2 separate regions of the Homo sapiens genome follow, and region 1 is linked to region 2. The links come from fine-mapping of genetic effects on gene expression. Tissue or cell type: regulatory T cells. Region 2 holds a variant in brackets; the other region holds the start of a gene. All regions are shown on one strand. Distances are between the middles of the regions.

Evidence for each region. PIP is the estimated chance that this variant, and not a neighbour inherited with it, causes the effect. A credible set is the group of variants that fine-mapping cannot tell apart.
Region 1: CRTC2 starts here. The variant in region 2 is the best candidate, but not a certain one, in a credible set for the expression of CRTC2 in regulatory T cells (Bossini-Castillo 2019, PIP 0.65).

What each region holds. Positions count from the first base shown.
Region 1 is chr1:153,957,632-153,960,312 of GRCh38, reverse strand. CRTC2 (CREB regulated transcription coactivator 2) reads left to right here and starts at 1,701. Exons shown (of 14, transcript NM_181715.3): 1 at 1,701-1,968. The coding sequence starts at 1,816. SLC39A1 (solute carrier family 39 member 1) reads left to right here. Exons shown (of 4, transcript NM_001271958.2): 4 at 1-1,203. The coding sequence ends at 215. RefSeq lists enhancers at 1,472-1,671, 2,232-2,281, 2,292-2,511, 2,572-2,621 and a silencer at 1,922-2,071.
Region 2 is chr1:153,087,388-153,090,068 of GRCh38, reverse strand. It overlaps a transcript of SPRR2B not described here. Among named protein-coding and RNA genes, the nearest start is that of SPRR2E, 5.8 kb to the left of the region's middle. The variant G/A (reference allele first, on the strand shown) is at 1,310.

The sequences.
Region 1 (2,681 bases), 870 kb before region 2:
TCGGGCTGGGTGCAGCTCTGGCAGAGTCGGCAGGACCTCTGCACCAGCTGGCCCAGTCTGTGCTAGAGGGCATGGCAGCTGGCACCTTTCTCTATATCACCTTTCTGGAAATCCTGCCCCAGGAGCTGGCCAGTTCTGAGCAAAGGATCCTCAAGGTCATTCTGCTCCTAGCAGGCTTTGCCCTGCTCACTGGCCTGCTCTTCATCCAAATCTAGGGGGCTTCAAGAGAGGGGCAGGGGAGATTGATGATCAGGTGCCCCTGTTCTCCCTTCCCTCCCCCAGTTGTGGGGAATAGGAAGGAAAGGGGAAGGGAAATACTGAGGACCAAAAAGTTCTCTGGGAGCTAAAGATAGAGCCTTTGGGGCTATCTGACTAATGAGAGGGAAGTGGGCAGACAAGAGGCTGGCCCCAGTCCCAAGGAACAAGAGATGGTCAAGTCGCTAGAGACATATCAGGGGACATTAGGATTGGGGAAGACACTTGACTGCTAGAATCAGAGGTTGGACACTATACATAAGGACAGGCTCACATGGGAGGCTGGAGGTGGGTACCCAGCTGCTGTGGAACGGGTATGGACAGGTCATAAACCTAGAGTCAGTGTCCTGTTGGTCCTAGCCCATTTCAGCACCCTGCCACTTGGAGTGGACCCCTCCTACTCTTCTTAGCGCCTACCCTCATACCTATCTCCCTCCTCCCATCTCCTAGGGGACTGGCGCCAAATGGTCTCTCCCTGCCAATTTTGGTATCTTCTCTGGCCTCTCCAGTCCTGCTTACTCCTCTATTTTTAAAGTGCCAAACAAATCCCCTTCCTCTTTCTCAAAGCACAGTAATGTGGCACTGAGCCCTACCCAGCACCTCAGTGAAGGGGGCCTGCTTGCTCTTTATTTTGGTCCCGGATCCTGGGGTGGGGCAGAAATATTTTCTGGGCTGGGGTAGGAGGAAGGTTGTTGCAGCCATCTACTGCTGCTGTACCCTAGGAATATGGGGACATGGACATGGTGTCCCATGCCCAGATGATAAACACTGAGCTGCCAAAACATTTTTTTAAATACACCCGAGGAGCCCAAGGGGGAAGGGCAATGCCTACCCCCAGCGTTATTTTTGGGGAGGGAGGGCTGTGCATAGGGACATATTCTTTAGAATCTATTTTATTAACTGACCTGTTTTGGGACCTGTTACCCAAATAAAAGATGTTTCTAGACATCTGTACAGTATCTGATTCGTTTGTTTTGGGAAAGGGGTGGGCATGTGGCCAGCCTGAGAGGGCCTGAGTCCCAGATGTTTACAGCTGTTTTAAGATTCTTGGTCTCACTGTTTTCACTCAGGACCCGATAGTCCCCTTCCCTGAAGATGACCTAATTTTTCCTCCTTTGTGTCTTGGTACTTCTTTCCCGGTCTCCACCCCTCGGCTTCCCTTCTCTTCCCTCCCCTCCCTCTTCCTTTCTTCTCTCTTCAATCCCTCTCTCCTTTCCGTTCGTAGTCTCAGGGCTAATTTAGAACTACTCTTCCCAGCTTGCACCTCTCAGGGAGTAGCCGAGAGGGTGGAGCCAAGTCCCCAGTTTCCGGAGTCAGCAGGGCTGCTGGGAAGTGGAGTCCGTTTCCTCCTAGTGCTGCGTGACTGGGGATGTGAAGGAGTCTCGTAAACAAACTACAATTCCCGGCGGCCCCCGCGCGCAACAGGTCAGGGCTAGGCTGGGGCCGGGTTCGCGGTGCTCGCTGAGGCGGCGGTGGCTACGGCTGGAGGAGCCGGGCCGAGGCCGCGGCGGAGGCCGCGGCTGGTACTGGGAGGGTGGCAGGGAGGGACGGGGAAGGAAGATGGCGACGTCGGGGGCGAACGGGCCTGGTTCGGCCACGGCCTCGGCTTCCAATCCGCGCAAATTTAGTGAGAAGATTGCGCTGCAGAAGCAGCGTCAGGCCGAGGAGACGGCGGCCTTCGAGGAGGTGATGATGGACATCGGCTCCACCCGGGTGAGGGGCCGCGCCGGGGAGCCGGAGCAGAGCTGAGCAGTTACGGAGCGGAGACCGGAGAGGCGGGGCGGGGGCGGGCGCCGCAGCGAAGGAGGCGGAACAGAGCAGGGGACGCGGGCGCCGCCGTTTGGGAGGCGCAGGTTGAGGGCCGAGGGGCAGGAAGAAGGATTTTGCCGGGGGAGACCGAAACACCGGAGAGGTTCGGGGTGTAGAGGCGACTGGGGGCCGAGTACGTGAGGTGGGAGTGGGCGGAGAGGGGAGATGAAGTCCGGCGGAGGTAGGAGGTGAGTGGTCCTTGTGCATCCCTGACGGAGTCCCCTCGAGGACGCTACTGAAGCATGCCTGGTATTGGGGTATGGCCTGGGAGGAGGGCTGCTTGTCTGTAACCTGGCTCCTCTGAGTTTGTGATCTCCTCCAAACTGGTCCCTCTGCCTTCTGCGCTTTGGTGCCCCCGGGAAAGGGCCCCTTGAGTGGTTTGAACGAGCGGTGCTGTGTATAGTGGGGCAGGAAGTCCCCTCCTGCGTCCCGTCCTTTTGCTTCCTTTTTCAAATACTTCTTGTGGTTTCCTGACGTGAATGAAGGTGAGGTCCATTGCTTGGTGTTTTGTCCTGGCCTCCTTGGAGGAGAGGTAGGGTTTTGAATCCGACAACTGGGTAACCGTCCGACCATAAGTTGTGTGGAACTCTATGGTTTGCTGAGCTTTCTAGGGAGTT
Region 2 (2,681 bases):
GTTTTGTTTTGTTTTCTTTTTTTTTTTTGAGATGGAGTCTCACTCTGTTGCCCATGCTGGAGTACAGTGGCCCAATCTTGGCTCACTGCAAGCTCTGCCTCCTGGGTTCACGCCATTCTCCTGCCTCAGCCTCCTGAGTAGCTGGGACTATAGGTGTCCACCACCAGGCCCAGCTAATTTTTTGTATTTTTAGTAGAGATAGGGTTTCACTGTGTTAGCCAGGATGGTCTCAATCTCCTGACGTCGTGATCTGCCTGCCTCGGTCTCCCAAAGTACTGGGATTACAGGTGTGAGCCATTGTGCACAGCCAATATGGCCCTTTTAAGGATATTGATTCTTCCCATTCATGAGTATGGAATGCTTTTCCATTTGTTTGTGTTACCACTGATTTATTTGAGCAGTGTTTTAGAATTCTCCTTGTAGAGATCTTTCACCTCCCTGGTTAGCTATATTCCTAGGTACTTTATTATTTTTGTAGCAATTGTGAATGGGATTGTGTTCCTAATTTGACTCTTGTCTTGGTTGTTGGTGTACGGGAGTACTAGTAATTTTTGTACATTGATTTTGAATCCTGAAGTTTTGCTGAAGTTTTTTATCAGCTGAAAAACCCTTTTGGTCTTTGAACATAGGGTTTTCTAGATATAGTATCATGTCGTGTATAAACAGAAATAGTTTGACTTATCCTCTTCCTATTTCGATGCCCTTTCTTTCCTCACCTTCCATGATTGCTCTGGCCAGGACTTCCCATACTATGTTGAATAGGAGTGGTGAGAGAGGGCATTCTTCTCTTGTGCGTAGGGAAAAGAAAGAGAGATCAGACTGTTACTGTGTCTATATAGAAAGGGAAGACATAAGGATTCCATTTTGAAAAAGACCTGTACTTTGAACAATTGCTTTGCTGAGATGTTGTTAATTTGTAGCTTTGCCCCAGCCACTTTGCCCCAGCCACTTTGCCCCAGCCTGGAGCTCACAAAAACATGTGTTGTATGAAATCAAGGTTTAAGGGATCTTGGGCTGTGCAGGATGTGCCTTGTTAACAAAATGTTTACAAGCAGTATACCTGGTAAAAGTCATTGCCATTCTCTAGTCTCAGTAAACCAGGGGCACAATGCACTGCAGAAAGCTGCAGGGACCTCTGCCCTTGAAAACGGGGTATTGTCCAAGGTTTCTCCCCATGTGATAGTCTGAAATATGGCCTAGTGGGATGAGAAGCATCTGACCGTCCCCCAGCCTGACACCCATAAAGGGTCTGTGCTGAGGCGGATTAGTAAAAGAGGAAAGCCTCTTGCAGTTGAGATAGAGGAAGGCC[G/A]CTGTCTCCTGCCTGCCCCTGGGAACTGAATGTCTCGGTATAAAACCCGATTTTACATTTGTTCAATTCTGAGATCAGAGAAAAACCACCCCATGGTGGGAGATGAGACATGTTTGCAGCAATGCTGCCTTGTTATTCTTTACTCCACTGAGATGTTTGGGTGGAGAGAAACATAAATCTGGCCTACATGCACATCCAGGCATAGTACATTCCCTTGAACTTAATTATGACATAGATTCTTTTGCTCACATGTTTTTTGCTGACCTTCTCCTTATTATCGCCCTGCTCTCCTACTACATTCCTTTTTGCTGAAATAATGAAAATAATAATAAATAAAAACTGAGGGAACTCAGAGACTGGTGCTGGTGCAGGTCCTTGGTGTGCTGAGTGCCGGTCTCCTGGGCTCACTGTTGTTTCCCTATACTTTGTCTCTGTGTCTTATTTCTTTTCTCAGTCTCTTGTCTCTCATTCTGTATGATGTTGGCTGTGGGTCTGTCATAGATGGCTGTTATTATTTTGTGGTCTGTTTCTTTAATACCTAGTTTGAGAGTTTTTAACATGAAAGGGTGTTGAATTTTATGGATAGCCTTTTCTCCATCTATTGAGATAATCTTGTGATTTTTTGTCTTTAGTTCTGTTTACGTAATGAATCACAGTTTTTGGTTTGCCTATGTTGAACCAACCTTGCATCCCAAGGGTAAAGCCAACTTGATTGTGGTAGATAAGCTTTTTGATGTGTTGCTGGATTCAGTTTGCCAGTATTTTTTTGAGGATTTTTGCATTGACATTCATCAAGGATATTGGCCTGAAGTTTTCTTTTTTTGTTGGGTCTGTGTCAGGTTTTGTTATCAGGATGATGCTGGCCTCACAGAATGAGTTAGGGAGGAGTTCCTCCTCAATATTTTGGAATAGTTCCAGCAGAAATGATATAAGCTCTTGTTTGCACATCTGGTAGAATTCAGCTATGAATTTGTTTTGTCCTGGGCTTATTTCGGCTGGTAGGCTATTTATTACTGATTCAATTTTGGAGCTCATTATTGGTCCTTTCACAAATGCAAATTCTTCCTGGCTCAGGGTTTGGAGGGTGTATGTGTCCAAGAATGCATTTGTTTTTTCTATATTTTCTAGCTTATGTACATAGAGATGTTTGTAATATTCTCTGATGTTTATTTGTATTTCTGTGGAGTCAGTGGTAATATCCCCTTTGTTTTTTCTAATTGTGTTTATTTGGATCTTTTTCTTCTTTATTAGTCTAACTAGTAGTCTACTTAGTTCATCATTTTTCTCAAGAACCACCTCCTGGATTTGTTGATCTTTTGAATGGTTTTTTGTGTCTCAATGTCCTTCAGTATGCCTCTGATTTCAGTTATTT